2 separate regions of the Homo sapiens genome follow, and region 2 is linked to region 1. Evidence: fine-mapped expression QTL. Tissue or cell type: whole blood. Region 1 holds a variant in brackets; the other region holds the start of a gene. All regions are shown on one strand. Distances are from middle to middle.

Evidence for each region. PIP is the estimated chance that this variant, and not a neighbour inherited with it, causes the effect.
Region 2: VANGL2 starts here. The variant in region 1 is fine-mapped to the expression of VANGL2 in whole blood (TOPMed, PIP above 0.99).

What each region holds. Positions count from the first base shown.
Region 1 is chr1:160,425,330-160,435,968 of GRCh38, forward strand. VANGL2 (VANGL planar cell polarity protein 2) reads left to right here. Exons shown (of 8, transcript NM_020335.3): 8 at 1-3,341. The coding sequence ends at 49. It overlaps LOC105371467 (a long non-coding RNA gene), which reads right to left. Exons shown (of 3, transcript XR_922202.3): 3 at 7,536-7,597. Among named protein-coding and RNA genes, the nearest start is that of VANGL2, 30 kb to the left of the region's middle. RefSeq lists an enhancer at 4,539-4,768. The variant G/C (reference allele first, on the strand shown) is at 3,441.
Region 2 is chr1:160,394,766-160,405,404 of GRCh38, forward strand. VANGL2 (VANGL planar cell polarity protein 2) reads left to right here and starts at 5,799. Exons shown (of 8, transcript NM_020335.3): 1 at 5,799-6,104. The region is part of intron 3 of LOC105371466 (a long non-coding RNA gene); the gene reads right to left.

The DNA.
Region 1 (10,639 bases):
CAAGTCACACAAGTTTGTCATGAGGCTGCAGTCTGAGACCTCAGTGTGACTGTGCAACAGCAGGGGGAGTGGGAAACTCTGGGGGGTCCTGAGGGGGTGGGAGGGGGCTTGGTTCTCAGGCCCAGCCACATTCCTGCCACCCTTCTTCTTCTTGCTCTTTTTTTTTTACTTGAATTAACGCACCCCCACCTTCTCTCCTCGCTTCTTCCTTATTTTACCCCATGTGAACCTGGAGAGACCATCCTGCTGTCAACAGTACCTGGGAAGGACTCCCACCTCACCAACAACTTTTGTATTACTCTAGGCCCTGCAGGAATCAGTGCCTCTCTCCCTCTTCTTTCCCTAGTCTTTTCCCAGATTACAGTCTCTCCTGAAAGGGCACAGGGCCCTGCTGATTGTACTTTCCCCTCCTGAGCCCCGACTCACAAATCCAAGTTCTTAAAACATTTCTCTTCAGTGGCCCAACAGGGTTTCTCTGGGGCACATGGACATGACTCCAGAGAGCCACAGTGCCAAACTCCTCCAGGGCAGCAACTGGCCCTCCTGTCCCTCACCCCAGCCACAACAAACCCTGGGTTCTAGGGCAGGGATACTCCTGCCACACAGCCCGAGTTAGAAATCTCCTTGCTAGGAGCATTTGCTTCCACATATATTTAGAGCAAAGAAGGATCCCATCCTTTTCCCAGAAATCTCCACCTAATGTTTTTGGTTTGTATGGTCACGTGACCATAGGCAACCACGTGGAAACCCTCTGTGACCACTTTTCCAGGGACTTAGGGGAAGGTACCTTTCTTCCAATGTGTCTTCCTAGGCAGCCCCTGAGGAGGAGGGCTGAATAGATCCCTGAGGTTTTGGAGAGACCCCCATCACTGACTCCTGCTCCCTAACCCTACCCTCACTTTCGTCCCCGCTCTTCCCAGTGAAGGATGGTATGTAGACTCCTGTACAGACATAGTGGCTTGCAGACCCTGACCCAGCCCCTGTGGTCTTAGACAAATGTTTTTATTTTTGTCACCAGCCACCCCTGTCCTGCCGCCTTCTCTCGACTCCAGAGACCTGTTGCCTCATCTCTTTTGGGGAAGAGCCGGCAGCTCCTCCTCATCCCCTGCCTTAAGTCCAGTTCTTTGCCTCAGGGGTCTCGTTTCCTTGGCCTTCCAGGGTCCCCACCCCTTTTCTCCCTGCCTGATTCTCTGAGCTCTGGGCTCCGTCTGTATTGGGTTGAGGGGCAAGGATTACTGCCTTTTGTAGGTACTTCACCCCTCACCCCATTTTAGCTTCCATAGTCTTTGCACCAAATCCAAATTCTTGATAATTTAGATCTCATTTTGAGCAAAATTTGCTGGCCCTCTAATAAATATTTTCAATATAAATCTGAGCCTTTGACTCAGACATTTTTGCCAAGGAGAGTAGAATTAGGAAGTACCCATATACATCCAGCCAGGATCCACATGGAGGACCTTTCTGATGGCTGCAATGACTAGGCCATTCCTCTGAGTAACTCACAGTGTCCTTTTGTAGGCCCTTCTTTTCCCTGAAAGACTGGTTGGTACTTACCTTGCAGAGCACATCCTGGGATAAGATCCCCAGTGTCTCCCCTGGGAGGCTCCCCCTCTGTGTAGCACCAGCCCTGGGAATGATGGAGCCTAGTGATCGGGGTTTCTCCTGCTGTCCTTTCTGCAAAAGTTCACTTGTTTACCCACCGCATGCTAGAGAGGAGCTCATTGGCCAATGCTTACCTTGTCCCCAAAGGGGTGGGTTGTGGAGCTCACTTAGGCAGGGCCTCTGGCTGGGGCCAGGGTTATGAGATAGGCCTGTATGAAATATGTCCTGTTCTGGGGGTCTGTCTCTTTTCTTCTCTTCAAAAACTTTGTGTCAGAGAGTCCCTTCTGAGTCACATAAATACCTCACTATCCTGGAAAACAGGGCCTGGATGGTGACTGGGGTCATTGCCTTTGTGGACAGGATGGAGTGTGGTGTGGTCTGAGGAGCAGGTTGGGGTGGGGGAGAGGGAAAGGATTTGGGATCTTAGTTGCTGCCCTAGGTTAGGGGCTGGGGAGTGTTTATTTTAAGATCCTGCCATGTTTTTAATCACTGTGATTTTTTTTTCATTCCCCTTTCCTAAAAAAAATTTTTTGCCTCCAACTCTCTAAGCACTAAGGGCTGTGCCTGAGAATGGTAGCATTTTGGTCTTTTGCTTCAGAACTGTGGTATCTTTGTCTTTTTTCATTATTATTATTATTATTATTATTATTATTACTATTGTTTTTTAAAATGTCAGGATGAATTGTCAGACATATGGCCATGTGTTTGTCCTCTGCTTCTCCCCTGTGGGAAGTTGTCTCCATGCTGTGAACTGCTGTGGGGTGTGCAGCTGACTCAGTCCCTCTGAGCAGTTTCCCCACTGTGTCTGTCCCATCATGCGCTGGATCTGCTCATTCTCCTGCTGTGGGGGTATGCCCACCTCTTACCCCCTTGACACCATAGGGCTGCTGTGGCTGGGCCTCACCAGCACTGTCTTTTGTGTGACTCATGGCATCCTCGTTCATCCCCACCGTGCCTAGCAGGCCTTCCTTTTCACCACCTCGGAACGCTTGCCTTTCCTCCCTCCACAACAGGACGCTGTGCCTCAGTCCTTCACCTACCTCGCCACTCTGCCACTGTCCCCATTGGTCCTTTCTCCTAAACTGGTCTTTGTGCTCTCTTTGTTTTTTCTTATTTCCCTCTTGTCTCTCATTTTTTCTTCCCATTCCCCTCCCATTTCAGCCCTTAACTTTTCTCTTTCCCATCTCCACTCAGTATTCCAATGGCAAACCCTGATGATGTAACACCTGCGATGAGACATCGGACTCTCCGGAACTTTCTCATCTGACACGTCTTTTTCCCAGGGTTCGTACTTCTCCTCCATTGGTCCCAGGCTAACTCCCCTGTTCCTCTGTGGTGTCTGTCAGTCCGTCTGTCTTCTCTTTCCTCTGCCCTTCCCACAGGGCAGTATCTGCTGATGGATTCAGTCCTGGTGTGTGATTGTTGTGATTTGTTCTTCCGTGCGCAAAAGGAAGAGGGCTTTTTGAGTCCCTTCCAAGTGAGATTGTAAATGTAGAATTTTCCACTGTTGGATCTAGATTTTTTTTCCTTTTTTTTGGGGGGGTGGGGTTACAGAGCTGAGACCTTGTGCATGCATGTAGAAAATTGTAAAATGTAAATTTTTTTTAATATATAAAAAGCTTGTTTCTACAGTTTGCAGTGGATCTAAACATTACGGCAATTTTAGGATTTTTTTCTTAAACATAGGAACTAAAACTGTACAAATTTTTTTTATATAAAATAAAGACATTTGACTTTTGTGGGGGCATTCTGTTGCTTTTCTTTCTTTACAGGAATGGGAGCAAATGAGGGCCAGGGAATAATGAATATATTCCTTGTTAGGGAGGGAATGGGCAGGA[G/C]GGGGCAGTGTGAGCTCATCATTGCTCTGCAGGCCTTCAGGGTGTGTTGGAGAGAAATGGGAAAATGAAAAAGGAAATTGCTTATTCTGAATCCTGATTCTAAAGAGAGAGAAACAACAATGTGAGGGCTTAACCACTTCCTGGTGTAGTTGTCAGGATAGAGAAAGAAAGATTACTTCCTGGGTCCACCCTCCTGAGCAAGCTTGTGTCTGTATGGCCTCTAGGGCAGGAGTGGGTTTCTAAAACGTATTTCTAAAACATAAAGTGCCATAGGAATTTCAGGGGATAGTTGAGATTTCAGTCAGTGGTGACAGCCCATCACAATTCATTGAGACAAGTTTCTGTAGTATATATATTAGTTCTAAATATGTAGAGAGTTCAGTGCTCTGTTGTCACTGTAATGCATGTAATCAGGTACTAAAATCACCCTCAAGAGATTGGGTCCCTTCTCCCAGTCTTACCTGGGCCTGACCTCTGTGACTTTGGGCAAGATGCTTAGCATGTAAACAGCCTGCTAAGGTTAAAAACAAGCATTTCTGTATGGAGGTGGCCTATTCACTAGATTTCCTCCTCCTCTCCCCTGCCTCATACTCTGCCAGGCTCTGGGGATGCAAAGGCAAGAGAGGCTCCATCCTGGAGGATGACCCAGTTTACAGGGGTGACAGGCTGGGTGACCCTAGTGCAAGGCTTCATGGCGTGTTCTCAGGCAGAGTGTAGACAAACCCTGGCTGGATTCCAAGGAGCTCGGGGAGTTTCCTTCAAGAAATCTAGGAAGTTTGTTTAAGACTCAAGATGGGGGAACACACTCACCTTGAGATTACATTTTGTTCATCTAAGTATTCCTAGAATTGAAACCAGTTCCTCGCATATAGTTGGTCCTCAATAAAAAATTGTTGCATGAATAATGAACTGAACAACTAACAATACAATAGGGGCTCATGAAAGGGATCATATACTTGCTTCTCCCTTTAAAATTGCACTCCAGTCTTTCTCATGTGAAAACAAACAAAAATACTTCCCTTGAAATTGCATCCCCATTCTCACGGCTCTGTTCTTTCTGTAACTAGGTTTGTAGAATAGTTTCACTTGCTGTTTCCAGTTCATTTCAGAGTCAACTTGTGACTTACATTGTGACCAAATTTCTACCTTAGCATGCCTCTGAAATTATTCTTGTTCTCAACAGCCAAGTATAGTAAACACCTTTTAAGTTTATTCTTTATTTAGTGCCTATGATGTTCCCAGCCTGATACTAAAGTACTTTCTCTGGTAAAGATACTGGATATGGTCCTGCCCTCACTGAGCTAACCTTGGTGGACCCTTGAGAAGGCTAGTTAACCTCAGGGACCTCCTCTTGTAATGCTGGCCCCAGGAATTCATAGATTTAAAGCCAGACCTCAATATTTGATTGATAAGATCATATTTTCTCTAGAGGTTTGCTGCAAGCAAAAGTGATAATCCTGACCATTTGTCAGGCAGCAAAGGGTATTTGTAACTTTTGTTTGAAAGGATGTGTTTTCCACAGAAGTTCTTCACATAGCACTGAAGTTAGGGACCCAGCTTGGTGGATTGTCAGGGTCATGCCTGGGACTTCATGACATTATATGTGATTATATGTGATTACATATGCTGCCCATGTGTGATTTTTGTTTTTTAGCCTTTGCCTTTGAAATACAGCCGAGAGGGGGAACTGGGGGCTGGGGCTCTGGCTGAGGAGACATAAAGATCTTTAGACCAAGGTCTCAGTGATTTGTTATTAGTTTTTTATTTTTTAATTTTAATTTTTTTGTTACTATTTTTTTTTGTTTGTTTGGGATAGTTTAATGGCTTCTACAGACTGAAAGTCAGCTTGCTTAAGGTAACCCTTGGCTTTTTTGTTACTTTAAGCATATGATAGTAATGCTCTTCCAATTGCCAGGAAGGCTGGGGTAGGGGAAAGTCAGCCTTTGGAAAAGCACTGCAGCATTAGTGTACACATGGTCATGGAAGATGCTAGAGAGATAATAAAGGACCACCTACATAGTAAATCTTGGAGAATAGTCATCCCTGTCTAGCTCCCCAGTTTCTTTTCAGGCTGAGAATGGGGTCCATTTCTCTTGGTACAAACGGCAGGGCAGACATGACATCCTACCTGCTCATAACAGTGAATGCCACATTTGAGTATGTAGAATAGTGGGAGAAGGTACTGGTTTAGAGTTGGGAAACCTGGCCAAGGCATTGGCTTCTCTCATTTCATCTCAGCAAGTTTTGGGGGCACACTTACTGTGTGGTAGGCATTGTGATACAAAGATAAATAAAACATTGGCCCCCTCCCCTTGGAGCTCATGGGACTTTTGCTAGATAAGTTGGGAAATTTTATTTTGTCATATGTTGTAGGCAACCCGAGGAAGCACACTATTTTCCTGGAGGTGGTAAATACCATCTGTAAAAGGCAGACTGAAGCCAACAGTGTGTGAGGGTATTGAGCCTGATATGTAAACTATTTTGATGTCACTTGTCAAAAATAGCCATCTGTACTCTGATATCCTGTAAGGGGAATGACTTTGGTTATAAGGTTATAAAAATTAGGAGTATGGCTGGGCGCAGTGGCTCACGCTTATAATCTCAGCACTTTGGGAGGCCGAGGCGGGTGGATCACCTGAGGTCAGGAGTTCGCGACTAGCCTGGCCAAGATGGTAAAACCACGTCTCTACTAATAATACAAAAATTAGCTGGGCGTGGTGGCACATGCCTGTAATCTCAGCTACTTGGGAGGCTGAGGCAGGAGAATCACTTGAACCCGGGAGGCAGAGGTTGTGGTGAGCCGAGATTGGGCCACTGCACTCCAGCCTGGGTGATAAGAGTGAAACTCTGTCTCAAAAAAAAAGAAAAGAAAGAAAAGAAAAAAGAAAAAAAAAATTAGGAGTATGAGATCTTCGGTTGTGTATTGTCCCTTCTTGCTTTTGGGCACAATTAGGTCATGCTGCTGCTTCACTTAGGGTAAGTATGTGGTTAAAAGTATGTGGTTTTAGGATTTTTTAGGGCAGTGGAACTACTGTGTATGTGCTATAAATGTGGATACTTGGCATTATACATTTTTCCAAACCCATAGGATATACAGTACCAGTAGTGAAGCCTAATGTAAATTATAAGCTTTGAGTGATTAATTGGAACAAATGTACCACTCTGGTGGGGGATGTAGATAATGGGAGAGTCCATGCAAGTGTGGGGGCAGGGCATGTATAAAAAATCCCTGTACCTTCCACTCAATTTTCACATGAAACTAAAACTACTCTAAAAAGGCTATTTACATTTGAGATCAGGAGTTCGAGACCAGCCTGGCCCACATGGTGAAACCCTCCCCCGCTGTCTCTACTATAAATACAAAAATTATTTTGGTGGAATGCGCCTGTAATTCCAGCAACTCGGGAGGTCAAGGCATGAGAATCGTTTGAACCCGGGAGGTGGAGGCTGCAGTGAGCTGAGATTGTGCCACTGCACTCCAGCCCGGGCAACAGAGCAAGACTCCATCTCAAAAATAAATAAATAAATTACAAACAAACTCTATTTAAAAAAACCTGACTAAGAAGACATCAAGCACAACTTTACCTAATTCTAGACACCGCTCTAGTAATAAAAGTGATAGTATTATAGGTACTTGTGATTCAGGGGAAAAAAATGCAGGTGTGTGCTGTTTCCCCTGAATCCCTTAACAGTGTCACTATGGAGCTTGGAAATCTGTTAAAGACCACTGAAGAGGAAGCTGAAGCTCTGTTGGTCCATCAATAATACTGTGACAACCAAAAATTTGCATGAGGGGACTTAAATGAGTCAGGAAACATGTGATTTAACTTAGTGAAGATTTTCACTCCTTTCAAGTTCCTGTTAATGTTAGTTCTCTTTGACATAAGAATGTGTGATTTTAGGGTGGGGTTGGCTGGGATGGTTTTTACTGTAATAAAGAACACTTGTTGAAGGACTTCTTGTCTTCTGTCAGTTTACTTATATCTTAACACAGTACCTCTGGCCTCAAAGATGGAATCCAGTTGAAGTGAAAGCAGATCCAAACTGTATCATCAGGGAAAGCTGAGCTTGTAGAATTCATTTTCAGTGACTGGTACGAGATTGTGTACTTCTGGTTTGGAGCATATTGAAGAATTCGACCCTGGGCAACCTTTTTCCTGGAATTGAAATGTTCATCGGGTTTTTACTCTGTCTTGAAATAGGTCCCCAAAATAGAGTTTTTCAAACTTTAATGGTGCGTATAGCAAGTGTACAAATCACTTGGGGATTATGTGAAATACAGACCCTGATTCAACAGGTCTGGGTAGGGTCTGAGTTTCTTCATTTCAAACAGGTGCCCAGGTGTCTTAGTCAGCTCAGGCTGCTGTAACAAAATACCATAGACTGACTGGGGGTCTTAAAATCCAGAAATTTATTCCTCATAGTTCTTGAGGCTGGAAGTCCGAGATTGGGCTGGCAAGCATGGTTAGGATCTGATGAGGGATCTCTTCTTGGCTTATAGGATGCTGCTTTCTTGCTGTGCCCTCACATGGCAGAGAGAGAGAGAGAGAGAGAGAGAGAGAGAGAGAGTGAGAGAGCGAGGTTTCTTATGTCTCTTCTTATAAGGGCACTAATTCCATCACGAGGGCCCTAGTCTCATAACCTCATCTAAATCTAATTACCTCCCAAAGGCCGCATTTCCAAATAACATCAAATTGGGGGTTAGGCTTCAACATATGCATTCTGGGGCAACACAGTATAAAGCACCAGGTGCTGCTGCTGATGTTCTACAGACCTTATTTTGAGCAGCAAGGCCCTAAAAGAAGCTTAATATACCCCTGAAAATTTGAGGGTCCTAAACACGCCTTACTTAACTCTAAGATAATTGATGCAAGAGATCAAAATTGTTAAGAGGTCTAAATTTTATGAATGTAATAAATAGTTTGGTAAGGTCATTGTTGCTCATGCTATAAAATTGTGCCACCTGTATCAAATTGTGATTTTATGAGAATCTTAAATGATATGTTGTGAGATAGGCCTTACGTGTGGAGTTTATACAAAAGCAGTTCAGTATGCAACTTAACTGATCCATGAGACGTTAATAATGACACAAAAAAAGGGCCAAAATGAGATCTTATCACTAAAGGCCATAGAAATTGAAGGAGCAGTTTCCAATATAAATTATCTTTGGCTAGAAATTTTTTTGCCAACATGACTGTATTAGTCTATTCTCATGCTGCTATGAAGAAATACCCGAAACTGGTTTAATTGACTCAGTTTCTCATGGCTGGGGAGGCCTCAGGAAACTTGCAATTCTGGTGGAAGGGGAAGCAAACACATCCTTCTTCACTTTGTGGCAGGAGAGGGAATGAGAGCCAAAATGCTGCCAGTCTCTTTGCGTTGCAAGAGTGACATTTACTTCAGTTCTTAACAAGTTCCTCATCTCCATTTGAGACCACCTCAGCCTGGACTTCATTGTCCATATCACTATCAGCATTTTGGTCAAAGCCATTCAAAAAGTCTCTAGGAACTTCCAACCTTTCCCACATTTTCCTGTCTTCTGAGCCCTCCAAGTCTCTAGGAAGTTCCAAAGTTTCCTGTCTTCTTCTGAGCCCTCCAAACTGTTTTAACGTGTGCCTGTTACCCAGTTCCAAAGTCACTTCCACATAATTGGATATCCTTATAGCAGTACCCCACTCTCTGTTGTACCAATTTACTGTATTAGTCTGTTTTCATGCTGCTATGAAGATATACTCAAGACTGGATAATTTATAAAGAAAAGAGGTTTAATTGACTCACAGTTCCTCATGACTAGGGAAACCTCAGGAAACTTACAATCATGACAGAAGGCAAAACAGGCATGTCTTACATGGCGGCAGGTGAGAGAAGTGAGTGCCAACTGAAGGGGGCAGCCCCTTATCAAACCATCAGATCTTGTGAGAACTCACTATCATGAGAACAGCATGAGGGTAACCACCCCCACGATTCAATTATCTCCGTCTGGTCTCTCCCATGACACATGAGGATTACGGGAACAAAAATTTAAGATGAGATTTGGGTGGGGACTCAGCCAAACCATATCAATGACCAATAGAACAGAGGAAATTCATGAGTTTTACCATATTTAGATAGTTTCAGATAAGGTGACTTAATGTACTTCAATATTTGCATTAATTGCTATGGGTATAGAATGAAAGTGTGATCCTTGAATATCTGAGACATGTCTCAGTTAATTTAGAAACTTTATTTTTCCAAGGTTGAGGACACATGCCCATGACACAGCCTCAGGTCATGATGACCTGTGCCCAAGGTGGTCAGAATACAGTTTGATTTTATACATTTTAGGGAGAGATGAGACATTAGTCAATGTATGTAAGATGAACATTGGTTTGGTCTGGAAAAGGCAGGACAACTTGAAGCAACGGTGGGGCAACTCGAAGTGAGGAGGGGGGCTTCCAGGTCATAGGTAGATAAGAGACAAATGGTTGCATTCTGTTGAATTTTTGATTAGCCTCTCCGAAGGAGGCACTCAGATATGCATTTATCTCAGTGAGAAGAGGGGTGACTTTGAATAGAATGGGAGGCAGGTTTGCCTTAAGCAGTTCCTCGCTTGACTTTTCCATTTAGGTTAGTGATTTTGGGGCCCCAAGATTTATTTTCCTTTCACAAAAGTAACACCATATTTCAATAATTGTAGGTAGCATCATATATCAATAATTTAGAAATATGTTCTCAAGTTTCTTTGCCCAAGTGGTGGTCACTGTACAAACTTCAAGATCTTAACGACCTTGTAGTTAAATGTTGCTGGAAACTGTCTTATCTGTGTTTACTGTTTTTCACTCATTCTGTCATTTAACCAATATTTGTTGAGCACCTTCTATGTGCCAGGAGCTATGCTAGGTATTGGTGGCATGGCACTGAATAACATGGACATAGTCTTTGTTCTCAGATAGTAATCACTTAATTTCAAAGGTGATGAATGTAGTGATGAAGTATAGGGGACTATGGGATCTTACAGTAGGAAACTGACCAAGGTTGTCAGGAAAGGTTTCCTTGAAATAAAGGATGGGGCACAACATCTTTTTGACTGGGAAGAGCTTCCTCATTCTCTTCAATAACCAAACTCTATCCAAGAAATTGCTGTCTAAAAATTGAGTGTCAAAGTAATTGGACCTTGGAAGTTGTCAAAAGATTTCTTGAGAAGGCTAGCAAGGATGTAT
Region 2 (10,639 bases), 31 kb before region 1:
GATCACCCGCCTCAGCCTCCCAAAGTATTGGGATTACAGGCCTGAGCCACGGTGCCCGGCAATGAGCTTTCTTTTCTATCCTTATCTATCCCCACAGCCTTGGAGCCAGGCTCAACTCCCCTCCACCACCCTGCCCCCAAACTATTTAATTAGCCTTCTTACTGGTTTTGCTACTTCTAGATTTTTCTCTCTTTAAACCAATGCCACACATACCCCCCAGCATGCCCTGAGAATGGATGTGAATTCTGTGTGTGTACATGTGTACATTGTTCTGGTGAGCGCTTGTAGCTTTCATCAAAGTCTCAAAAGTCCACAAAAGGCTAGGAGTCACTACCATGATCTTTATTTCAGATGAAACCGTGCTCAGTAAATGTGGTGCAGTTGACAGACTGCTGAACAGTAAGTCAGGAGACCCGGGTTTTAGTTCTGGGGCTGCCACTAATTAGCCGTATGACTTTGGGCAATGAGGCACTTACTTTGTACCTGTTTCCTCATCTGTAAAATTCAGAAAGTCTCTTCCAACCTCAAAATGCTATTATTGAGAAATTACCATACAATTATTATTAAGAAATTGCCATACAATGTCATAAATGCTAAAACAAAGGTATGCAGAGCTTTGAGAGCACAAAGGAGGTTCTCCGGGTGTGGGGTCATCTAGCTTTGCTTGGGAAAATTGGTAAAGAGTTGCAGAGGAGGCCACAGTTCAGTCTTGAAGGATCAACAAAACTTTCCAGGCAGAAAGAAGGAGGAAGGCATTTTAGGCAAAGGAAACTTTGTGAGAAGGCAGAGAAGTAATAGAGCCTCAAATTGGCAGAACAATGAGTAGATGCGTATAGTTTGGATGTACGTGTGTTGAAAGTTTGGGCTTTAAATGCACAGGGAGCACTAGGAGATAAGCCTGGAGAAGGCGAATGAGTTGGGGCCTGAAGTTTCTTATGTATGGTGCCAAAAAGTTTTGACTTTATCTTGTAGACAGTGGGAAGCCATGGATTGTTTTAGGTAAGAGAGTGACAGGCTGATTTCCCTTTCATAAAAATCACATTGGCAACATGGGAGGAAGACGGATTGGAAGGGAATGAGACATGTTTGGAAATGATAAAGGTCTGAATAAGCCAAGGGGATAGAGGTGGAAGGAAGATAATGTTGTTCCTTTTAAACCTATTACATTTAAGATACCCAAGGAATATCCAAGTTAAAATGTATGGTAGGAAGTTGAAAATTTGAGTCTTATGCTCACAAGATAGACCTGGATTTAGCAGCACTCATAAGTGAGTACTGACTGAAGCCACAGGAGTGAATGACATTGCTTTGGAAAAGCATGTGGAGTGGGGAGTAAGGGGGCCAAAGGCTGAATTCTGGGAAATAATAGTATTTGAAGTCAGGAGTAGAAAACACATTGGAAGGATGGCTGGGGTGCAAGGAGCTGAGGAGTGAAGGGAGGAAGAGAGATAGTAAAGAATCTATCCATTTTTTTTTTTTTTTTTTTTTTTTGAGATGGAGTTTCACTCTTGTTGCCCAGGCTGGCGTGCAATGGCACGAACTCGGCTCACCGCAACCTCCTCCTCCTGGGTTCAAGCGATTCTCCTGCCTCAGCCTCCCGAGTAGCTGGGATTACAAGCACCTGCCACCATGACCGGCTAATTTTGTATTTTCAGTAGAGACGGGGTTTCTCCATGTTGGTCAGGCTGGTCTCTAATTCTCGACCTCAGGTGATCCACCCGCCTCAGCCTCCCAAAGTGCTGGGATTACAGGTGTGAGCCACCAGGCCTGGCCTAAGAATCTACTCTTTTAAGAAGGTTGGATGAGAAAGAAATAAAAGCGAAGGCTAAAGCAAGAGGAGGCTGCTGAGTGGAGGAAGGTATTTCATTTTATTATGTCTGCTGGGCAAAGATCAGTGAAGAGGCCGAAGTTGGTTACAGGAGAGATTGTGAATAATGGATGGAGGTGGGAAAGGACAGGATATAACGCACACCTGCAGGGCCTAGTCCCAGCCAAGGGAGCTGGAGAGTGTCTATTCTTCCCAAGAAGGAGGAAGGAAATCAGAAAGTTTCATTCAGTGGTTCTCACATTAAAATCACTGAGGTATCTTAAAAAAAATGCCAATAGCTGGGTCACACCTCAGAAGTTTCTGGTTTAATTAGTCTGGGATGGTCCTGGGCATTGATGTGTTTTCAAAGCTTCCCAGGTGATTAAAATCTGCAGTCAAAGTTCACAACCACTGGTTTAATTGCAGGTAACATTTTAGATTAATGATAATGGGATTGGATTTGAGGAAACTCACACTTAATAAAGGTTGGATGAATAGGGAGTGGTCAAGGTTTCATAGATGAGGAAGGGAGAAAGAGAAGGAAGCTAGAAGGGAAGGCAGCTAATGCTAACTTATTGAATTTTATGTGCCAGAGATATAGAAATGAATGAGGCATGGTCCTTCTTCTTAGAGATCAGGATCTCACATGACAGACACTTCACCACAAGCCTATGACATAATACAGTTCTTGACCAGTTAAGTTTTTTTGTGTGTGAGCTACTTTTATTCTTTTTTTTTTTTTTTTTTAACTAAAAGTGAAGGGGGAAACCCCTCACACCCAGAACCCAGGTATTTCCCAATATAGACTGGGTCTGGAAATCCTTTTGTGAGCATTGAGAGTAGCCTTTCTGGGAAGGTGGGTGCTGGGGAAAGATCTGTAACTATTCCGGGAGATCAACTTGTACCCAGGCTCATCAGCAGGGCTGGAAGTAGATGGTGATTGTGGCCCTGCATGTGGGTACATTACTGCAGTCACCTGTACCTGGGAGGTGGCTAAAATTGCTAATTGCTTACATGGAAACACTTTGATGGCCATTCTGCTATAGTGTGAAGCTTCTATGAGTAAGGTACCAAGGATTCCCTTTCTCTGAGCAGCATTGTAAAAAGGCCCTACTTTTCATCAGAGCAGAAAACCTAACTTTTGCTACTGTGGTCTGGGCCTGACCTCCAGGGACAGCTTCATCCACACAGGAAGTAGGTAGGTGCTTCTCTATAGTCTGGACCTTCCCTCAGAGAGAGTCTACTGTCACTTCTTGAGTTCCTTGAATCTTCCCCAGGAGGGTCCAACTCCCAGGGCTCCTGGGAAGCCTCTGATCTGACCCCACCAGCCCCACCTCCACCTAGTGAGCTGGTGAGGTGTTGAAAGGGCTTTAATGGAGGGCCCTGGCTTTTAGCTAGGGGCCTCCTTCCCCGAGGAAGAGTACTGAAAGAAGTGTCCTAGAGAAGTGTTCTCTCCTAAGAGAAGTATCCTAGGCACAGAACAGAGAGGGGAAACTCGACTGGGAATTGACTGTGGCACTATGAGTATATGGAGGGTGTTCCTTCTGTTACCTCATTAGACCCTTTTTATATAAGCAGAAATTGAGGCTTGAAGAAATTAAGAAATTCGACTATGTCCTCAAGGACAGGAGCTGTACAAAATCCAATCTGTTCCATTCTATTGTCCCTCAGGCTCTTGGCCTCCCTCTGTTATTGTAGGTTGGCCCCTTTAGGAAAATCTCAGTTGAATGTCATTTCAGTGCTCTCCTTCCTTCTAAAGAATTAAGCTAGGTCCCTTAGACCATAGGGCACATGGGCCTTCTAGCTGGGTCTCTGTTTGCTTACTCAGTGACTTGGGGACGTGTGAAATCCAGATGGGATTCTATCCTGAGGTGAAGGTAGAAGGTAATACAGAGAATTGCTGAATGGGACAGACCACACCAATAAAATTTTTTGTTGGACTCTGTAATCCAGTGTTTTCATTGCAGAGATGTAATTGAAAGCCCCCAACCTCACCGTCAGAGAAAGGAGGGACTAAGCTTATTCTAGCCTGATGCCTGATACCTGTTAATTGGGAAGCCTTGTCTGTTAACATCCTGACTTAGGTTTCAAGCTTTCAGTGGGGCCAGACTATGGAATTATCTGTAATTCTGGCATCAGAAGCCCTTTTTCCAGTTCTTTGGGCCATTTTGGGGTCTGTGAAACAGGCTAGCAGCATGTGAAGATAATTCACACTAAATCTGCCTGAGAGTCAAGACAGTGCCACGGCAGCCCCGACTCTGTGTCAAATTACACACTAGCTGCCTAGCACTGGGGTGTGCTTTGGGGCAGGGCTGGGGACACCCATGTCCTCCCTACTTCCCTTAACCCTTCCCCAGCTCTCCTGCCACTCCCTCATACACCTGGTCGTGGTCACTGCCAGGAGCCCCAGTGCGGCCCAGTGCCTGCACATGATAGGCACAAGGTGAATGAGTGCCTGGACGCATGCAGGGACTTGGGTACCTGAAATGATGATTCTGCATATTTCATGTAGTCTTGATGCTGAGTCACCTGCTTACCCATACTACTGGAGGAGGGGATGAGGAAAGACAGAGTTTGGGCAAAGGAGAAAGGAAGTGTGTTTTACTGTTCTGCATCTTTGAACAATGCAGCATAGTTGGTTCTGTCCTCATCTTTGGACAGGTTAGAATGAACCATCAAAAGGGGTGAGATTAGGTCTCAGGAAATAGTTTTCATCAGGGAGGAGCAAAAATTCCCAAACAAGTGAGGAACAGAGGCTGGGAGTCTCTTTCTCTGGGATTCCTTAATCACAGGGTTGTTCAAGCAGGTGCCAGGATTGGAAACTGAAGGAGGCTGAGATATTGAAAAGGCCTTGGCCTGCTTAGGGAGAAGTATGTGAAGATGCTTTTGAAATGATACTACTCTAAGTGGCGGGTTGCACGGCAATAACATTAATGATAATTGAATACTGCTTTCACTTACTCCAAGGGGAACATGGACTTCCCACAGCCCAGGCTTTTACGGTGTGGGTTCACTCTTGTAGGGTCACATGTAAAAGAACCCTAACTGGTTTCTTGGCATACTGGGAGGCACAAATGCCCCAAACGTGTAGGATATTTTGTGAGATCCTACAATCCCTGTGTGGCACCTTCAACTCTAAAGTATCTGAAACTCCTGGGATGGACAATCTGCCTGCTTGGGGTTGGGGACCCAACTGGCCAAGGCATTTTTCCTCTTGGAGGTTTCCTGGGAGAAGGCCCCCTCTCCTCTGCCATTCAAACTCCCAGGCGCCCGCGTCTTTTCCTCCTCCCCTTCTTCCCTAAGGCAGGGTTCCCTTTGTAATTAATCCCAACACTCAAACCAGAGGGGAGGAAAAATGTGTTAATGAGGGAGCGTCCCAGACTGACTGGGGCGGTCGCTGCTCGCAGCTAGAACTCCAAGTAATTAAATTATTTTTGGAAGGAGGGGATATGGTGGTGATGGTGTCAGGGAAATCCCCGTATGCATGGGAAGAGGCGTGCGCCTCTCGCCACTAATTAAAATCAGGGATGACCCTCCCTTCTCGGACCCCTAGGGGGAAAAAAAAAATCAATCTTCCCACGTCCCAGATTCCATTGGATTTTGTGTAGTCGGGTCCGTGGCCCTAAAGAGAATATGGCCAGCCCCAGGGATCTGGGGGCTCCTTCTCCGACAGGAGGGGTCCAGGAAGACAGCCCCAGGAGGGACTGCGGGCTGGGCCAAGTCCAAGAATCGAGGCATTCCCCTGCCCACCGTTCGGGACCCGAGTGTCAGCCCCACCGCGGATTCCCAGGATCGGGGAGGGCCGCTGGGCATCTGAAGGCGCAGGGCTGGGGGAGCGGCGACTCCGGGAAGAGCGGGGCCGCAGACAATGGACGCGGCGGTAGGAGGGGCGGCGGCTGTGGGAACAGCCGGGAGGCGGCACCCGGGAGCTCGCGCTCCCCCGCCCCCTGCACCCCCCACCCTCATCCCCTCCCCCTCCGCCCCCTCCCCCCTGCGCCGCCGGCTCCCGATCTGATTCCTGATCCTTGATTCCTTGATCCTTGGTCCCGCCATGGGAGCCTGAGCGCCCCCTATTCCCCCCTGGCCCCCAGCCCCCGGGGCCTTGAGGGGGAAGAGGCAGCGGTCTGGGACGGAGCAGGGGGTGACCAGACTCAAGAACCCCCCCCTCAACATCCCCCATCGCGCGCGCTGCCTGTCCAGGAGCGCCGAGTTCGGAGCGACCCGGAGCGCTGCGGATACAAAGGCGACGGGCCGAGCGGGGCGCCCGCGGAGCCCACCCGGCAGTTCGCAGCGGCGGGTGAGTGCCGGGCCGCGGGGGCGCGGGCAAAGTTTGAAAAAAAAAGAAGAAAGAAAGAGAGAGAAAAAAAGAAATGGAAAAGGAGGAAAATCATGCAAGGGGCCAGGGGGTGCCCGACCCCAGAGCGAGCGGGGTGGCTTATGGGGGAAGGGGGGCTGGACTCCGGGCAACCCCCTTCCGGTCCGCTTCCCCACTGCACAGCGGAGTACCCCCCCCAACTTTGGGGAGGGGAAGGGGCTCGTGGGGAGGGGGCGGAGCCCAGGCCTGGAGAGCCGGGGACTTTCCTGGGCCCGGGCGGGGGCCTTAATGATCCCAGGGGAGCCGGTTGAAGCCGGAGACGGGGAGCTTGTGTTGGAGGTGGGGGGAGAGGCGTGGAAGGATCGGAGTCTGGAGGTATTGGAAGCCAAGGGTGTTTTGGGGTGCATACACCCCTCAGGAGCGTGGGGAGGGACGGAGGCAGGTATGCGTTAAGGGTGTAGAGTGGAGTCAGGGGGGCGGGTTGGGCAGAGTAGATAGGGTGTATGTACAGACCGAGGATGGGGCTGGAGGCGGTAGACTGTGTATAGGGGCCGAGGGGACAGGCGCTGGCATCCCTCTCCCCACTCATATTTACCCATCTGGGGGACTGTGGGCTCTGCGTTAGTGAGTTTTGAAGGGTTGGTGGAGGATCCGTGTGCATGATTCTTTGTTTTGGTGTGTGTGCACGCCTTGACGTGCTGCATGTTCCTGCAGGTGGGCCCCTGGTTTGGATGTGTAGGTGTTTTTCTGTGCTTGAGTGTGTGTGCACCCAGGGAGCGGCTGACCATGCATCTGCTGTGTGTTTGGATATGTGTTTATATGTATACTTAGGGGAGGGCGTGTATGTCTATGTGTGTGTACTGGGAGAGGGGTTCACGGGAAAGAGGTGTGTAGGTACTGAGGAAGGTGGGTGTGTAAGAGCAGAATGGAGTGTATGTGGATAGGTGTGTGTGCACCTGTGTACTGGGAAGGGGTGTGAATCTGTGTTCTCTTGTGTGTAACCTGTGTTGATGGGTATCAATGTGTGTGCCTGCCTTAGCTGGTATGTATGTTTCTGAGTGTGTGTCGGGGGTACCTCTAGACTCTGCAGGCAGATTTTCCTGGCAAAAATCCCGAAAAGAAGGCTGTCTGCAGGATTTTGAGACTTCGTGGATGGCCTCGCCTGGGTTTAGGGGTAGTACCTTAAGTATCTGAGACCTATGGGTGGGAGGGAATGAGTTGTCTTATGAAGTGCCTGTTTTTGGGGGATGGGTTTTTCTGGAAGAGGGCGTGTGTTGTGGGGAATAGGGAACAAGGGGTCTGGTTGTAGTCCTAGAGGAATTTGGAAGATTGGCGGGGTCAGGGAGAAGAATAAGAGGAACTTCCTCCCCCATCGTCATAGGCTGGGTTCCAGCGCTTGGAGAAGCTACACTCTTGGATTCCCAGCCTTAGGTAAAAGCTTCAGGCCACAGTTCTCTTGGAAAGCCGTCTCAGAGTTTGCTGCTTCATAGCCTTCTAACTCTGCCCTGACTCTAAGATCCTAAAGTTCCTGAGGAGTCTTGAGATTTTGGTGTGGGATGGAAACAAGAGGAGGAAGCATGTCTGGAGGGTTGAGACCTGGTGGGGAACAGCTTGGGTTCCCTGCCCATGGGGTTGAGAAGGTGGCATAGGGTGTTTCTTCAGCAGCTTTTGCAAGTGAGTCTGTGTGGTTTATCAGACCAAAAAGTTTCCCTTTTCCCTGGTGTCAAGCATGATTGAGATGGAGCTGTGGGTGTGGGGCCAGGGCTGAGTGTCTGTGTGTCGGGAAAGGGCCAGGTACCCATTGCAGGCTATACTGCTATACTCATCATCATGATAGTGTGGTGGGAAGTCAGTGACTATCCAGGAAGTGAATGTCTCTTTCCACCAAGAAGCCACAGCTCCCTTCTCTCCCTGTCCTCTCTCATCCTTTCTCTTTTGGGGTATAGGAAAGGGGTTGCTCACCTCCTTCTTTAGGATACTAGCCTTCCCCCATTGCACACTCTTTTTGCTGCCAGTGGCTGGGTTGAGGCACCCAGTTTTAAGAGCTGAGGTGAGATTGTACATACCCATTATGGTCTCTGGGCAATTGCAATTGGAATGTTAGAGTCTCTAATGGGCATGTGCAATTGGAATGTTCCCTCTTTAGTCCTCAGGGCTCCCTACCCTCCCTAAGGCCTGGAGATAAGAGTAGTAGGGGTTAGAAAATGTTTGAACGAGGAACGGGGAACGGGGCAGAGTAGGAAAAGACCTTTAAAAGACCTTTTTTTTTTTTTAATGGATCATTCCCCCAAACCCAACACCTGTCTGATAGTTAGGGCTCCCAGGGCTAGTAAGGCACTTGCATCTAAGATGGTGTGCCCTGGCCCTCTGGGGTCCCTTGTTTGCTCTGTATACGCTGATCACATGCATGATATATTATGCTGGTGGGGGCTCTCTTCCAAAGAGGAGGAATTGTGGTCAGATAATAGGAAATGCCATTTCTGAAAGTACTTCCAGATTGGGAGTCAGTGGCCACGTTGGCCCCTCCTCACCCATTGTCTTGCTCCTGACTTCTATTTCCTCTAATTCTTCCGGGGCAGGCCTCTCTGGTGTGTTTGCCTCTCCTCCTGATCCTTTTAGATCTGAGGAAATATCCCCCCTTCCCTGGCCCTAGAGCAGGACAGTTTTTTATCTGCTCATCTGGTTTCCAGGTCCTTCCAGTTAATGGGGAGGGAACTTGACTAACAGAAGCTTTGGCAGGGAAAAGGAAGAGATCTGATCCCCTCTGAGTTTTAGGGAACTCCAGTCTTCTCCTTCCCTCAAGTGTTCATCACATTGTGAGGCCAGAGAAAGGAGTCAGAGTTGGTTGGAATTAGTACTTAACAGTGGTGTGATCTGGGCAAGTAATAAACCCCATTCCCCAGCCTCTTAGGTGTCTTAAGGCACATCCTCCAAGCCTAGACTGAGCCCTTCCACAAGGAATCCCTGGTCCCCCACCAAGTGGCTTTCTTCCCTGGTTTGCTTTTAAATTCTGGCTTTGCCACTGTCTAATTCCGTGACATCAGACAAAACTGGTAACTTTTTGAAGCCTCACCTGTAAAATGGAATTAATAATAGGCCCTACTTCTTGGGGTTATGAGGATTAAATGAAATAATAGAGAAAGCACGTTGCACAGTTCCTGGCACATAGTAAATGTTAGCTGGATGGTTCGGATTCTGAGGGATAATCATCATTAAGGGAGAGAGGTCGGAGTCGGGATAGGAGAACTAGGCTTTGGTTCTGATCTTCCTTTGGCCGACCACATTAGGCACTCTCTCCTATCTGCCAGGCACAGTGTGAAGCACAGGGGATGGAGGGGCAAATAAGATGTTTTCCCAGGGGAGACATGTGAAAACATGTTGATTCACTGCAGCCCAGTGAGTGCTGTGTGGAGGTGTGTTCAGGAGGCCACTGGAGCATAGAGGAAGAGTGCTTGGCCCTGGGGTGAGGTGCCAGGGAAGGTTCCTGCAGGAGATGCCCTGTTAGCTGGATTTTAAAAAAATTAAGGTGAAATTCACATAATAGGAAATAAACCATTTTAAAGTGAACAGTGGCATTTAGTACATTCACAGTGCTGTGCAACAACCACCTCTGTCTAGTCCCCAAACATTTGCACCATCCCGAAACAAAACCCATACCCATTACACAATTGTCGCCATTTCCCCTTACCCCAGCCCCTGGCAACCACCAATTTGCATCCTGTCTCTATGGATGTACCTATTCTGGATATTTCATACAAATGGAATGATAGAATGCATGACCTTTTGAATCTGGCTTCCTTCGCTTAACATAATGTTTTCCAGGTTAATCCACACGGTAGCATGTAGCATGTATTAGTACTTCATTCCCTTTTATAGCTGAATATTATTCCCTTGTGTGGACAGACTTTACCTGGTTAAAGGATGAGTTAGGCCAACAGGAAGGGTCTTAGGATGGCACTCCTGGTGGAGGCTGAGCGTGAGCAAGAAGGCACACAGGGTATTTGGTAGTCCTGTACCTTGCAGTATGAAGTGGGGATTTGGCCTCAGTTTCTCTGTCTATAAAACAAAGTTAATCATCCCTTTCCTGCTTGTGCTATGGGCTTGGTAGAGTTGGAGGTATTAGGGGAGAAGAGAGGCTAGGGTATTATTGCCTCTTCTCAGGGTCTGGGCTGGGGATGGGACTTTTAAAACTTGCTCTTTCCTCCTCTTTCCTGGGCAGCTCACTCCTGTATGCATCAACCCTCATCCTTGTGGGGAGCCATCTCCCTGTTCACTTGACATCAGCTTCCCCTCTCTCTGAATTGACCTGAAATTTTCCCTTTTACCTTCCACAGGTGGGTAACCCTGTGCATGATGAGATTTTGGCAGCAGAGGTGAAGGAAAGGCCTGGGACTAAGTCCTACTCACATTCTACCCTACGGCGGCCCTCCCCTTCTTTATCCTGTCTCTTGGTGATGTGGCTTGGGCAGCCCTCTCTCACCTTCTCTGTTGTAGTCTGGATAGAACTGTGGTGGGCC